Linked DNA regions of Homo sapiens: region 1 is linked to region 2. Evidence: fine-mapped expression QTL. Tissue or cell type: lymphoblastoid cells. Region 2 holds a variant in brackets; the other region holds the start of a gene. All regions are shown on one strand. Distances are between the middles of the regions.

What was found. PIP is the estimated chance that this variant, and not a neighbour inherited with it, causes the effect.
Region 1: POU2AF3 starts here. The variant in region 2 is fine-mapped to the expression of POU2AF3 in lymphoblastoid cells (CAP, PIP 0.95).

What each region holds. Positions count from the first base shown.
Region 1 is chr11:111,293,635-111,301,719 of GRCh38, reverse strand. It overlaps POU2AF3 (POU class 2 homeobox associating factor 3), which reads right to left and starts at 3,174. Exons shown (of 5, transcript NM_001271458.2): 1 at 3,132-3,174; 2 at 1,099-1,193. The coding sequence starts at 3,138. COLCA1 (colorectal cancer associated 1) reads left to right here. Exons shown (of 2, transcript NR_169237.1): 2 at 3,054-8,085. RefSeq lists a silencer at 2,035-2,234.
Region 2 is chr11:111,416,309-111,424,412 of GRCh38, reverse strand. It overlaps LOC100132078 (a long non-coding RNA gene), which reads left to right and starts at 6,227. Exons shown (of 4, transcript NR_046085.1): 1 at 6,227-8,048. It also overlaps a transcript of BTG4 not described here. RefSeq lists enhancers at 6,372-6,481, 7,532-7,601 and a silencer at 7,822-7,871. The variant C/A (reference allele first, on the strand shown) is at 4,656.

The sequences.
Region 1 (8,085 bases), 120 kb after region 2:
TCCTATCATCCCCAATTTGAAGACGAATAAACAGAGGCAAGAGGAATTGGGTAATTTGCTTGAGGATACACACCATGGAGGAACTGAGATCTGAGCCCAGTCCATCTGGTTCTGGAACCTGTGTTTACCTCCCCTACATCATTTGCCCCCTCCCATTTCAAGAAGTCCCGCTGTCAAAGGCCTATTTCATGAAGTCACACATTGCACATGAACAGCATCAGGCACAAAAACTGTTGTGGGGCAGATGCCAATGGGCTGGAGAAGGACCAATCCTAACAGAGGCAATATGAGCCCCAGCTGTCAGATCCTATGTTCACACCCAAACCAACCCCCAAGCAATTGTATGATTGAGGCTTTTTAGGGATGAGCTGCCCTCTCTTGGGCAATAACCCCACCTAGTTTATTTGGTTCTGTTGCTGCCCTGAGTGCCTTTGGCAGTACTTACCGTAGGAAGGTGTATAAAGTGTCAGGGTATACCCTTATGACTGCTCAGTTCAATTTTGTAATAACCTGAAACTGCTTAAGGTGTTGATACATTTTAGGGAAGTGGTCCTGTACTCCAGCTGTCTCTTCTGCAGAGACAGGGCCCTTTTCTGCTAGATACTTTAGGTAACTGATGATTTACAGATAAATGATCTCAGAGGGTGAGTTCCAGAAGAATGAGGAGGGAAGGGAGGATGTTCCACACAGATGCTATCCTGGAAGGGGCCCCTAAAATGAGGTGAATTTCTGGGAGAGATTTTCTATGGGTCTGCAAGGGCTGTACATATATCCACTGTCTTCCTAACAAAACGATGTATACTTACCTGCTGGCCGCTCCTCCCCCTGCAGAGGACCAACGCACTTTTTATACTTTACTTTCACCCATGGGGGATGGATGGGCTCCCCCAAATCCTGAGCCCCACAACATGCCCCAGCTGTCCTCTGTAGCTTCCCGATTGGGATGCAGCTGGGTACAGAAGTCATAGGAACAGCAGAGGAAGGCCAGGTCTGGGAATGGTGAGTGCGTGGGGCCTTGAGTGGCCTCCACACCTTGCAGACACAGCTTTGAAAGAGGCCTGGCATGGGCTGGGGAATGAGGGAAGGGCTTATGCTTACGGTTCCCCCGGAGGCCGCCTGGTGTGCCCGTCTTTGCTGCAGCAGCTCCTTCACTGTGATCTTCACTCGGACACCTTGATACACCTTCGGTTTTTCTGGAGAAAGGCAACTGAGTCAGTGGTCGAGTCCAAGGTCTGGGTGCCAGGGTGCAGAGTGGGGGCCCCTTTTATAGGCTATGGCACCCAAAGCCAAGTTTCTAAGTTCGGAGAACACACACAAAAAATGTCAAAGGATGGTAAAAACCCAAACATTTCAAACTTGAAAGAATGAAGAGTAGCTGAGCAGGTTTCAGAGCCCCAGTAGGAAAAGAATCCGTGGAAATTTGTGGGGCCATCCACCCCTGGCTGGGCCTCAGTCCTAGGCCAATAGCAAACGGGTTTTTCTGCTCTGGAATATGGAGACCAGTGCAGCGGAGCCCACCACTCTGATTAGGTCGGGGGAACCTTGGCTTTCAGACCCAGACAGCCGAGAGAGAGGGTATTATGGACCTGGGGAGGGGCCAGGCCTGGGGCAGGGGGCTTTCTCTGATTATGGCGGCTGACGTAGCCCACCCCACTGTGATGTTCCCACTAGCATGGAAGTCCCGAGTCCCTTCCTTCTCCGCCTGGCCAGGTGTGGCTTCTGGGCAGGCTCCGACCTCTGCGTGCCCTTGGTCTGGAAGCCAGCCCGGGAGCAAGCGGTGAGGTTTGGCCAGCCCCGTCCTGGGCCGGCGAGGTACCTGCCAGACTGACCTAGTAAAGGGGCCAGGCCCGAGGAACTCCCTCCCTCGCTCCCTTCTGTCTTTGCCTTCTGCCCGCTCTCCCTCGTCCCTTTTCTCCGCCTTTTCCGCGCTCCATCTTGCCCTCCTCCCTCCTTCGCCCCCGCTCCTACTCTCCCCTTCTTCCCCTCTCTCCCTACCCCCTCCCTTTCTGGGGCAGGCGTTTCTCCGAGGCGCACTGAGGCTCCGGGGCGAGTCCGCGCAGCGCGAGCTGGGGAAAGCCGTCCGGGGCTCCCGATGACCCTGCACTCCGCCGGGAGGCCGCCCTTCGGTAGGGGCCGCCCCGGGGCTGGCGGGGCCCGGTCGGACTGCCCCGGCTCGCGGGAGGTGGCGGGCGCGCTCAAGAGGGGTTCGCTGGGAGGGACCCCTGAGCGCTGGGAGCAGGGGCAGCCTCAGCCCCGGGCCCCGAAAAGCCGCAGTGAGTAGGTTGGGGACTGGCTGTTAGGCCAAGCCGAGCCGGGCGAGCTTTCAAGGTGGAGGTGGCCGCAGGAGTCCGGGGCGGCTCCGGCCCTGACCACTACCCTGCAGTGTGCGTCCAGGAATCGCGCCGGGAAGTGCGCTGGGTGCGGCGGCCGAGGGTGACCGCGCGTTCAGCCTGGACGCCTGGAGATAGTGCCAGGATGCCAGCGCCTCGCCTGGTCACTGCGGGGACCGCAGCTGGACAGCAGGGATCCCCCTCAAGCCGGGTTCCAGGAGTTAGGGTCTCCCCAGGAAAGGAGATTGCGCTCTTCCTAGCCCGGACCCAGGGAATCCCGTGCCCCGCCCGCAGGGCCCAGGCGCCGCGCCCTCTCCGCGCTCCAGCCTACCGCAGCCCCACCACCCCGTTCCCCGATCGGCTCCGGACTCCGCGGGCAGCGGGCGCCCCTCGGGGTCCGCGCAGGGACCGCCACAGCTCGGCTCAGTGCAGTCGGTGCGCTCTGCCCCCGTCCCAGGCTCACTGTGAGCCTCTAGCTCCCCCCGTAGCAGCTTCTGGGCGCGCAGGGTCCGCACCGCGTGTCTCAGGACACAACAGTGGATACGTGGGAGGGCGGGCGGGGGCCTGGGGTACGCGGACGTCCGGAGCGGCCAACTCGGCCTCTGGGCCTCTGCCCTCCGGGACAGGCGCTGAGTGGGAGCGGCCACAGCGTGGCTCGCGTCCTCTCCGGATCCCCGGCCCTTACTCGCATGCCTTGACTTTGTGCCTCTCTGTTCTATGCAGGAAAAGCCGTGGAAACACACCCGGATTGAAATGCCCCTGGCCCGCCTGACCCGACCCTAGGAGAAGCAGCCGAGTTACCCGACATCGTGGTCAGCAGGAGCTGGGTCGGTGGCTGGATGCTGCAGCAGCAGGGACTCAGCGCCTGGGAGGGCTCCTGGGGCAGGGAGAGAAGCAGAGATGCAACATTTTTAAAATTTCACAAAGCATCCGGCTGCACCCAGGTCCCTGGAACAGGAGACAAACAGAATTAATGTTTTATACCTTCGGGTATAGGTTTGAGTTTTTTCCCCCTCATGCCAAGTATTTAAAACCTCTAGAAACCCATGATTTGACAATCAATGATTGCGCGATACTTTCAATTTGAATATTCAAAGGCTTAACAAAATGGACTATCTTCTGCAGAAATCCTGCACACAGGCACCCCACAGAGAGTCCAGAGAAACAGGGAGTGAGACCCCTTTGGGTCCTGGCCCTTGCTTTTATTATAGTTTGAGCATTTTGTCCTCCTTCCCACAGATAGAGCAGATGTCCTCAAAGATGCTCTGTATTTCAGCCTTCAGGGCAGCTAAGAAGCCATGAGTGACTTAGGCTGCCCTGGCCATGAACACCGGAGCCAGACTGGCTGGCCAGACTGATTCCCGCATCCCCCATCTGTGTTTTGAGGGGAAATCTCAGGTTTTGAGGAATGAACATGGCAGCTAGTGGGTGTGGCACAGCAAGAAGTCGCTCTGGGCCCAGGTGGCAGGCCAGCGGCCTAGCAGAGGCCTTCGCTCTGCACCTCCTATTTTTCTGGCTCCGCCTGGCTACCAGCGGGCTTCCCTCCCCCTTTCATCCCGCTCTTCCTGGGCCCGACACTGGGGTTTCTGCTCAGAATGACTGCCCATTAAGACCCTTTCCTCCTCCCCACAGAGCTGGGGATGCCAGGAGCCTCATCCTCTGGAGACTTTCTGACTCTGGGTTTCACCACCGCACTGCGAAGTGCCCTCTTTGCTTTTTCGCCTTCTAGAGCCACCCCTGCCTTTTTGCTGTAGGAGCACATGTTAGGAAACAATGACAAGTTTGGCTCCTGCTCATTTTAACTGAAAGGATGTGGACTTAGGTTCAAGCCTTCTCCCATTGGGGTGAGAAGGGGGAGGGACTTGGGATCAGGCTTCCCCCTTGGTCCAGGCCCAAGCCCCTCACTAATGACTTGGGATTCTACTGGGTCATCTTCTGTGAGTACTTACTGTGCCTCTTCCATGTGATTTGGAAGGTGAGGAGACAGGAATGGTCCACAGAGGGAGAGAGTGCCAGGCCAAGTCCTCTCATAGCCACCCGCCCCCTCCACAGAAGGGGACAGCAAGAGAAGAGAGAGGCATGGTGAGGTTCCTTTTGCAAATAACCAAGATATTTCCAGGATTCAAGACCAGTCCATGGTTTTAGGCCTCTGCTGTTTATTCTCTGAGTTCTCAGAAATGCAAAAAGTGTAGTTTAGCCCCAGAGGCCTCAAGAAAAAGATTGGGGTGCCCCCAAATGTGTCAAATACAGAGGGAAACACACAGAGCTTAGGGAAAGGGCAACTGAGAATGACAAGACTGATAGGAATTGCTTGGCAGCTGAAGCCACATCTCTGGGGGAGAGGAGCAGGCCTGGGAACACCTGAGGTGGCACCTGGCAGTGGAGGGCAGGATGGATGTATTGAAATCTGACAGCTTCTGGAACTTCTTTCTACAAATGCCCCTGAGCCTGTGTCCTAGGTTTCCCTGATGGACCAGACCTGAGGAGGGGAAGGACAATGGGGGTGGAGATGGCACCTCCCCTCCCTGCATGCCTTCTTCCTCGCTGTGCCTAGGCCTTGCCCCCTCTGAAGGAACAGTGAACCAAGCAGCTTGGAATCTAGGGATGGTCTCTTGTCCTCATAGCGTCTTCCATTACTTCTTTTCTTCGCTGCTCTCCTCCTTTTTGTTATACTCTTATTTTTTGATTTGCTTTTAAAAACCTTCTTTGTTGCATTTTTGTTTATTTCTTTCTGTGTTTCTTTGTCTCTCTTCCTGTCATTGCTTTCTTCCATTTCTTATCTGTACTACTGGTTTTCTCCCTGGCTTCACGTGTCTCTGTGTTCCCCTATGCTGGGGTGTCCTCCCAGTGCTTTCAGGCTTCATCTCCTTCCTAACCTCTCCTTTCTATTTTTTTTTTTTTTTTTTTTGAGATGGAGTCTTGCTCAGTCGCCCAGGCTGGAGTGCTAACCTCTCCTTTCATGTGGAGATGGACAGGGATGGCAGGAGCACTGAGTGCTCTTGACAACACCATTGAAGATGATGCTGACGATCAGCTACCCTGTGGAGAAGGCAGGCCAGGCTGGGTGAGAGGGGAGCTCCTTGGAAGTCAGGGGGTCTGTAAGGACAGCAAGGATCTCTTTGTCCCAACCTCCAGCAGCCTTTATGGGTGCTTCTGTGTTGGCCTTGTTTCTGGGATGGCCATCTCAGTGCTGTTGCTGGCTAGCGATTTCAGAAAACTAGATTTTTCTAGGCCTGAGCCCTGTTTTGAGAAAGAAGCTTCCCTCTGGTTTGTAGCTCAACATTAATGAGTTTTGGTTCCTGTTGTTTCTATAATTACAAAACCCCAGCACAGGTATTTAAGAGCCAAAGGCCATGCTTGTGGAAGTAAGGGAGGATCTTTCTAAATGGATCCTGCAAATCCTCCTTACAGATCTGAGTGGATGATCAGGCCCAGAGCAACCCTGAGACCCCAGGTACCCACAGCATTGGCTGTTCTTCATAGGAGACTCAGAGAAGACTTCATAGGAGACTCATTATTGTTTACTGGACATCAGGTGCTATATTGTATAGCATTCACATTCCACAGGTGAGGAAACAGGCTCAGAGGAATAAGTGGCATGCCAAGATCACTGAGTATATCAGTAGCAGAATTAGGATTCAGACTTTGTTAGGCCTAACTCCAAAGCCCTGGCTTTTTTTTTTTTTGAGATGGAATCTTACTCTGTCACCGGGCTGGAGTGCAGTGGCATGATCTCAGCTCACTGCAATCTCTGCCTCCTGGGTTCAAGTGATTCCCCTGCCTTAGCCTCCTGAGTAGCTGGGACTACAGGCATGCACCACCACGCCCAGCTAATTTTTGTGTTTTTAGTAGAGAGGAGGTTTCACCGTGTTGGCCAGGATGGTCTCAATCTCTTGACCTTGTGATCTGCCTGCCTCGGCCTCCCAAAGTACTGGGATTATAGGCATGAGCCACCATGCCCGGCCTTTGCTCTTAACTACTGATGTTGTCTTCCTGATCTTTTCTACAAGAAGCTTTTAAACTTTTTGGACTTTAACCTACAATAAGAAATCCATTTTACATGTTCACATGTATCTATAACAACATTTATATTTCTAAAACAAACTTTTCATGAAACAAGATATACCTACATATGTCAGGCACTCTGATATTTTCTATTCTAGTCCACCTTTTCCATTTCATTCTATTTATGGGAAATATATGTTGGTTGGGAGTCACTGAGTTAATTTAATGACCCACTAATAGGCTGTGAGTGGCATTGGAAAAATACCTGCTTGTAAGATATGCGAACACACGTTTCAAGGTTGTTTGTGCATGTGGAAATATTTTGGGGTGCTATCTGTTTTACCATCAGTTTGTACAAGGACACTAAGACAGTGTAGCCTGCTGACTTGAGAATGTTCTGTAAGGACTGGAAACACTAGAATCTTGAAGAAACGCCTGGCTAGAGGTGAGGGTAAGCTGTTAATTACACTGATTACAGTTTGTGCCTCTCAGACTGAGAACTCTTTTCTTCTTGCTGGGGGCATTGCTATCTCTAGGATGTTTGCCCTGAAGTCCTGATAGTCTCTTTGGGGTTTTAATAAATGGCTGAAAAAATTGTTGTGGGGTTTCAACAGGCGTTCATAGGCACCCTTGCTTGGCAATATAACATGGCTTTTGATGTTTGGGTGTTGGAAGGGATCTTTGAAGTGCTGAGAGGGACTCAGTCTTTTTCCAAAATCTCTGCTTGTGTCTGTCCAGCCTCTGGCTCCACTGCTTGGCTGAGATCCTGGCCCATAGTAGAATCTGTGTAGAGGAAACGAGAGCTCACTATTTGTGAGGCAGCCTGTTCCACTATTGGACTGCTTTAAATGTAGTGATCAGTGATTATGCTATAATCCAATCATGTATTAATTGGGCACCAACTATGCACTAGGCATGGTATCAAGTACCAGGAGTACAAAAATAAGTAAACCTTGATTTCTGCTATCAATTACTCTCTTCTCCTACTTCTGTACTACTGCTTTTCTATTGTGAGTTTGTTTAGTTCATTAATTGGTTTATTCATTCATTCAACAATCATATACTGATTAGCTACTCTGACCAGGTCCAGTACTAACTCTGAAGAAGTTATGCCCATCCCATCTTCACCCCAAGCCTTCTCCTTTTGAGACTCCTCATCCAGTTTCTTTAGTTCTTCATATATCACTGTTTTTCAGATCTCTGGCTATCCTTGCCATTGACCTCAGAAATCCTGTATTTGACCTTAACCTTCTTATACCCAGTCCATACCCAAAGTGATGGAAATGGAATAGATTTCTTTTTAAAGTTTTAAACGAATATTTTGACTGAAAAATTTTGGCAGTCTTGTATGCAAATGACACTGCAGAGCATTGTTTTCTCCCCCCCACGTAGGAGATTTTATTCAACTAAGGCACAGGCATATTAAAAGACTTTCAGTATAAGGAAAAGGGGTAGTTTATTCCCTCCAAATTTGACTACAGCTCGAAATTGTCTTTATTAATGCAAAGTTCTTTTGTCACCTTGACTTTGGGACACTGTTACCAAACCTCGTGGGAAATATCAAGTTCCAGAAGATTGAATACATGCAGGAAACAAATGTTTTTTGGGCCCTAGAGTGAACATTTGGTCCATATGAAAATGACCAGGAAGACAATTAGGTGAAGGTTTTTTAATGATTTGTGCTACGTCAGTCTCTTCCCATAAGACATATTCAAAGTTTTAACTTTTCCTTAAGAGGCTTCCATGGGGA
Region 2 (8,104 bases):
CCCAGCATTTTCGCGTTAACTCATCATCTCCTTTCTCACCCCATGGTGTTCCTCTTGACTCCTTTGTTTTTAGATAGTGACACCAACATTTTGTAAGTCATCCAGCTCTAGAGCCCAGGCTAGTTTCCTTGCTTTCCTTGCCCTTGCTGCTTCCCAAATTGAGCATCATCTATCCGTGTCACTCTCAGTATCCTGGGGCACTGGATTGTATCGACTTGGGCTGTGGATGGGAGATGCCCTAAAGATGAACCTGTGAGGGCCTTTAGTGTTTCTCTAGCTAAGAGCTCTCTGAAGAACATGTTTCTTGCGATGGGCAGGATGGGAGAGGCTGGTCAAGCCTCTGAGCCTGTGCTCATTTCCCTTCACCTATTTTGCTCCTCCATGAGGCTTCTGTCACCACTGGTGGTGGTGGTTCTAAGGCTGTGGTGACCTGGGGAGGGTCTCTGTGGTGACTTAGCACCTGGGGAGGGAGAGGTCTGGCTTTCTCGGCCTCCTCTTCTGGCAGGGCCCTGAAAGGAGCTCAGGCCTCGGAGATTTCCTGGTTCCAATGTCCTTTCGTCTTAACAGTCCTCAGCTCACAGCTCCTCCAGAAAGTGGTCTTTATGTGTAAGGAGCTGAGTTTTCATCCTGGCATGTCTCTCATCTTTCTATGCCTTAATTTCCTCATCTGATGGTGATATCTATTTTTTGAGGGTGGTGGCATTGTTTTTGTGTATTAAATGAATGTCATATACTTTGAGAACCAAGCATGTTATATTATTATTTATTGTCATTGATATCGACAGGTCCTTTGGAAGTTGTCAGCTTGGGCTCAGCTGCCTGTGGTGTAAGGGTGGGCAAGGTGTCTAAGAATTCCTTTGGGGAGGGGTAGGCCAGCTCTCTGGGAGGTAGTTAGTAGGAATGCTTAACTGAATGGTTTGGTGCACATGATGCTTTGAGATCGGTGCAGTGGGGACCTTGGAACACATGCCATTAGTCTGGCCCAGGCTGGGCTAAGGGCCTGTCCTGGGAGTTATTTCAAGTTTTGACAATGGAGATATGGCACTGATGTAAAAGGATTTGATTCTTAGGATCTTCCAGATAATGCTGCCCTTATTTGGGAGCAGTGGATTGGGGGAGAGTTGGAAGATGTTCCCAGAATCTAATTTCTAGGGGAGAGAGTGCCTCATTCGGTCTCCCGGGCCCGCCACCACAGCGAGCTCTCAGTAGGGGGAGCTCTGTCACTGCGGTGGCCCTTCTTGCTGACTCGGGGTGGAGGGGCTATCTAGGCACCTGAGGAAGGCTTAGGAGTGGCCAACAGGGGTCTCTTCTGCAGGAGGAACCTGAGGTGTCTGCTGAGGAGCAGCCAGGTCAGGAGTCACTGGCTACAGGGTCCCCACCTGGAAAAGAAATGGAAATGCACTGTGTCCAGTGCATGGGGGAGAAAATGCACCAATGTCCTGACACAGGGAGTCTCACTAAGGTGGGGGAAAACAGAGAGGTGTGCAGCCTTACTAAGACCAAAGCTGCCACAGCACCTGCTTTATAGTCTATAGAATCCAAAACTGCCCTCCCTCTCCACCCACAGCTGCTTTTGGGGATTGGCTGCCAGCTGGGGATGGGGGAGGCCAAGACAGAACTTGGAGTTCCTGAGTGTGTCCTATGGGTGTCTCGTGTCCATTCTTATTGAGCAGGGGAGGGACCTTGTCCTGTTTCTGGCCTCGGGAGTCACCCTGTCCTGTCCCTGGCTGATCCTCTGCACCTGAGGCACAAAGGTTCTATATAGGAGTGTTTCCACGTGGTGATTCAGGTTAACTGTCTTCCTGTGCACTTGATGCCCAGGCTCGGTCTGGGAAGAGAGGACAAAAAGGTCAAAGGACACATCCTTCTATTCCAGCCTGCGCTTGGTGGCCATGTGAGCATTAGGGCGATGAAGGCCTGTGTGCACATGCATTTCCAGGACTCTTGGGGTGGCAGGGTGGGGTGAGCACTGTGAATGTCCATCTTGAGTGTCCAGCAGGAGGGCACCTGGGTGGTCTCAGAGGCCACGTACAGCAGCCATTTCTCATGAGCATGAGAGGAAGTCCAGCAGAAGTGTGTCAGTGTGGTCTTTTTCAGAACCACTCTGCCCTTACTGGGGACCTCTATGATCAATTTTTGTGCCTTGAATATTTAGGTTGAGATTGAGCTTGGTGCACGGTTGGCTCAGAGCTGGAGGAACGATTTGCTGGGGCTCCCTTGTGAAGGTCGCTGAGACCAGAAGACCCTCCCCTGCATCCTTTTGTTTTGGGATAAAAAAACAGACTGGCTTGAAGCAGTTTAGGAGAATCCTATTGGAATGATAGATTAGAGATTCTCTCTTGGTGCATAGAGAAGGGACTGTTTTCCTGAGTTTCAGAGATAGGGAGAGGTTGACTTGCTCTCCAGCAACTTCTGGGCCCTTTTGATTCCCGTGAGCTTGGTCTCAATGGTATCACGAAAAATTGCTGTGACCTGCCATGCCTTCTGCCTTTTTTTTTGTCTGATGGAGTCTCACTCTGTTGCCCAGGCTGGAGTGCAGTGGCATGATCTTGGCTCACTGCAACCTCTGCTGCCCTGGTTCAAGCGATTCTCTTGCCTCAGCCTCCTGAGTAGCTGGGATTGCAGGCCCCTGTCACCATGCCTGGCTAATTTTTGTATTTTTAGTAGAGATGGGGTTTCACCCTCTTGACCAGGCTGGTCTTGAACTCCTGACCTTGTGATCTACCTGCCTCAGCCTCCCAAAGTGCTGGGATTACAGGTGTGAGCCACCACGCCCAGCCGCCTTCTACTTTTTGTAAGCCTTAGTTTATAGTGTTGCTGGGGAAGTTAGCCCCATTTTCTCTTTCCTGCAAGCTGGGCAGGTCTATGCCTCTAAGGTGCAGACATCAGTTAATTGGTAGCCAGATGGGAGCCCACAGGGACATCCTGCCCTTCGGGAAACACACGTGCAAACCTAAATTTTGTCTTTGCAAATCGGTTGACTAGCTGTGCTTGCTAGAAGCAAAGTAGCTCTCATGAATTATCCAGTTTGGAGTTTTTCAGATCATGATGAACTCAGACACAAAGCCAGGTCTCCTCCTTTGTATGGAGGCAACATTAGGTAAAGGGGAGGGCTGAATGCTCAGGTCAGCATAGCTAATTATGCCATCTCATCCTCCCCCAAGCCCTTCTATGGCTCTGGCTGCTCTTAGAGATAAAAACCCTTTAGATAGTCTACGAGGCCCTATATGAGGTGCCCTCTCTGAGAGCTAGGCTCTTGAGATCCATTGCACACCAATCTCTGGACTCCAGCCACTTGGGACCTTGGTTCCTTGATTCTGTCACGCTCTCTCCAGCCTTAAGGCCTTTGCATAAGTTACTCCTTTTTCCTGGCATGTTCTTTCCCATCCCTATCCCATCCTTTTTTCTAGGTAATTTACTCTCACCTTTTAGGGACTAGCCTAGGTGTCCCTTTCCCAAAGGAGCCTTCTGGGACCTCCAAGATTGTGTTCCATCATGTACTCTCAAAGTCCTTGGTAGCACTTATTACAATTATTAGTGTTTTGAATTGTATAATTGATTCATTTTTCTCTGCTAGAATGTAAGCTTCATGAGGGTAAGGCCTGTTAGTTTATTTTTTTATCCTGTCAACCACTCAGCATAATGCTTGGCACAAATTAGGTGCTCAATAAAAATGTGTTGAATGAATGCATGAATGAACGGGGTCACCAGGTTGCTACTGCAATCCCTCTGGCATTCTACTAGACAAACTGTGTCTCAAACTGTTGAATGCTGTTTCTTGTTCTTACCCATTACAGGGGAGAACCACAGGTGGGCAAAGTAGCTCTACATACAGCTCCTGTGACTTTTGAGGCTTAACTCTTGTGAGATGATCATGGTCTCATCTCCCCCTGTTTTATCTCCCCCAGAGTCTCTGCTAAGGCAGAGTCCACACCCTACCATGCCCACTGCCTTCTTCCTCCTGATCCTTGGTCTTTTGGTCTTTGTGTAAAAAATGTGGCTTTCTCCAGGCAAAGCCCAGAATGCCACCTGGTCCAAGGAGGATTGTTGGCTATGATCTCCTCAGTTTCACTTCCAGAGCTGGCTGCTCAGATTGGTCTACCCTGCTGTGGATGCAATTTCAGGATGAGGTTGAAGAGCAGGTCATCTGGACTGCTGGGATGATTTTAAAGGAAACTTTAATATCTCCTGGACAAGCCAGCAGCTGGTGTCTGCAAGTCCTCCAGGACTTTGCACCTTGAGACTTGGATTCAGGGGCAGCTGAGAAGATAGACTGTGAACTTTCCTTTGCCGAGAGAACTGGACTACAGCTTAATGGCTGGACCCTAGGCATCTCTAGGACACTACAGTTGTCCATTGTAGATTCCTTTACCTCAAGCCACTTCTGGACCTGCCTGTCCTTGGGTGCCTGGTGCTGAGTCAGCAACACCTCCCTCCTGTCTTGGCAATGTGTGGCCAAACTAAGCCAAGTCTGATTATAATGGGTTGGTTCATCTAGAAGCTCACATCCCGTACTCTTTTTCCAATATGGCACTTAGCCAACTGGCACCCAATAGTGAAGAGTGACTCTGGGAACTGAGGCTGCTGAGGACTCATGACCCTGCAGAAGCCAACAGCAAAAGCTGTGTGGAGGGTGAAGCCATCCCGCTGCCAGG[C/A]CTCTCTCTCTGCTCCATGTCAGTTCCTGTCTGGCAGCGCCATGGCCTTGGCTGGCAGTCAGAGACCCGCTGCTGGTACTTGCTGGTGGCTTGGCTCTCTTCCATCTAGCCAGGGCATTTGGACCTTTTTTCTATGTTCTGCTTATGAGCTTGGGAAGCGAGCCAGTGGTTCTCCTTGGAAGTTGCCTCCATCCTTGTCATTTCCCACCCTAGTCCCAAGGGAGACATGTTTCTTTCTCTCTTCCGTATTGACACCTTCTCTTGCCTTTGGCTCAAATACAGACACCTCAGGTAGCACCAGTGCTGTGGGGAGGCCAAGGGGCGAGGGGCACGTACAGGAAGTGGTGGTGGCAAAATAGAGTTAAGTTCGGTTACCAGTGCTGGATGAAGCTTTGTATCTCTAGGGTTGTCAGTCAGCCAAGAAGGAAGGCAGTTACAGGCCTAATTCTTGGTTCCTGAACTGATTGGCTGTAGCTTTTATCAGGGACTCACTGGCACTTCTCTGAGCATCAGTGTTAACTTCTGTCATGGGCTGAATTGTGCAGCCTCCTTCTTCTCCTCCAAGTTTATAGGTTGACTTCCTAATCCCCAGTACCTCAGGATATGACTCTATTTGGAGATAAGGTCTTTAAGGAGGTTATTTAGGTAAAATGAGGTCATATGAGTAGGCCCTAATCCAATATGACTGGTGTCCTTATGAGAAGAGATTAGGACACAGATAGGTATAGAGGGAAGACCATATGAAGACAAAGAGAGAAGGCGGCCATCTGGAAGCCAAGGAGAGGAGCTCCCAGAAGAAACAACCCCGCTGACACCTTGACCTTGGACTTGCAGTCTCCACAATGGTGAGGAAGTAAATTTCTGTTCTTTAAGCCATCCAGTCAGTACTTTGTTTTGGCAGCCCTAGTGAACTAAAACAAACTCCTGCAGACGTGGCAGAGAGGGTTTGCAGAAGGGCCAAGAGAACGGTGGCTTAGATGCTTCCGGTTTTCCCAGCTTCTTCATGGACTCTCAAGGTTGGTGGTATCCCTTTGGCTTCTCTAGTTCTTTCTGCTTCAGGGAGCTACCAACCTCCTCTGGTTTTGGTGGTTAGCCTAAGTAGCTAGTAAATAGAGTGTTTCTACTCTTAATCTTATTTCCCCTTTATGAAAACCTTATGATAGGCGCTGCAGAATCTCCATGTCACCCAGCATCGTTGGTCCCGCCCTCTGGAAGCTCACATTCTATGCGGAAGACAGACATGAGGATCACTTCACTGCAGCATAGGAGGTGCTGTGATAGTGCTCAGCAGGGGGCATGAACTAAGGAGGACACCTTGAGCCCACCTGAAGAAGAAGGTCACAGAATGCTTTGTGATGATGATGGCCAAGCCTAAAGTCTGTCAGTTCTTTGAGGACAGAGGCTGGGTCTTTCTCACCTTCCTTCACCCATGGCATCTAGCACAGCACTTTGCACATAATAAGTGCTCATCTAATGTGTTGGGCGAATGGCTCTCTTAAAGTCCCTTCCAGCTTCATGATGCCATAATTCTGTGGCCTCAGAGGTCCCACAGCAGTCAGATGGCTTAAGGTGCTGCTGGCAGACGGCGTGAAGGTGAACAGACATGGGGTTTTATGATATGCAAAATCACTCATGAACAACTAAACTGGAAACCAGGGAGGAGAGCATAATGAGCTTCCCTTCTTAGCTTAGATTTCTAGGAGAATCCTCAGGCATAACAACAGGAACACAGCCAGTGCAGCTGCCCCACGTGGATGATCAGAGGCGACGTCTTACTCTCCACAAAGCCAAGTTTGGTCAAGCTCCTCACAGCTGTTTCCCACAGAGAGGAAATCCCCTAAGTTCCCAGGCAGTGTAAACTGACCGTGTGTTTATAAAATAGACGCCATGCCCCAAGAACATGAAAACAGTCCAGATGCATGAACCTGCAATGCAGCAGTGATTCAAGACACTTGGGAGTAGGGAGGAGAGCGTGAGTGAGAGAACGCTTCAATGCCGAAGCAGAGTGGCTGTTCTCTGGAGAACACCCAAACTGATCTAAAGCCAAAGTTCAAAAAATAACAAACATGCAAGCCTTTTGAAAACAAATTGTGCCTAGATATCTTTGCAAGCTGAGTGGTCAGCCCTCAGACAGTGCTATGAGGGAGTGATTGCAGACCACCCAGCACCCAAGGAATTAGGGGCAGTTCATGCTGTCCCTGTGTCCAAGGGCTCCGAGAGCTCAGATTAAAATTCTTTCTGCCCAGCTTTTGCAAGATGGAACCAAAAGAGCCCACTTGTGAGAAGGCAGGGGATTGAGGAGGGTCCCCTCCTCCCAGTACGGACTGTGTGGTGCCTTCAGATGAGCTGTTTTGTTTCACGCTGAGCTGAGCTCACCTAGGCGATGACCTTGTGACAAGAATACCAGGCTGAGTCCAGATCAGCAAAGAGGGGACAGGAAGAGGAAGAGGAAGAGAGAAGCAAGTGCAGCCATGCGAAGCTGTGACTGACAGAAGCCAAGTCAGAACTGCTGGTTAACATAATTTTTAATCCTTCATCAGGGCTGGTAAAATGTTGACAAAGGAGAGTCCTTGTAGTGAATCTCTCAGTCTATTAAGAAAGCTGTTTCAGACCCAGGGACATAAGGCAGGTGTATTGGAGTCATCAGACTCTCTACAAAATATTAGTCATCAGCTCTGCAAAAACCCCGTGGGCTGCACTGGGGCGTGAGTCCCTCAAAGTTTAACTAAACATGGCAAACTGGATGTACACAGACAACCTTAATAGCTTCTGGGGATTCTGGAAAGAGCTGGGGACCGGCTCCCTTAAAAATCTACTCTAAGAAAATTCACCGCAGGCCCAGCGTGGCTCCTGACCTGGAGGATAACAATGATAATGGAAGTGCTGTTAAAAGTAAGAATGACTATGAGTTATTGAGTTTTTCATCTGCTCAGGCACCGTGCTGGGCCTACACAGTATCTCATTCAGTCCTACTAAGGACCATTACTGTCCCTTTCCTACCTAGGGGAAAAGGAGATTGAGAGAAGTCAAACCGCTTTCTCACGGTGACAGGGTAGGCGGTGGAGCCAGAATACAAATGCAGGGGCTCCAGCCTCAAAGCCCGTGCTCTCTGCTCACATTGGCCCACCCAGGACAGACGCTGTCGGGATGTCCTGGGGGTTTCACACTGTTAAGAAATAATAACGAGTGAGAGCCAAGGTGTACTCTGGATCTACCTGAAGCACCCAACTCACTCCCTTCCATGATGTGACTAACGGCGTTTCAGATCTGTTTGTGCTCCGACCTGACCTCAGGAAGCCAAAGTCCCCTGAGGTCTGGGGTGTGTATGCTTGGGGACCCGAAATTAGAGGCACACCTACCTAGGATTGAATGTAACGATCTAATCAAGAAAAGGTGTGTGTGTGTGAGCCAGAGTGAGAAAACGAGAGAGGGAGAGAGAGAGAAAGAGA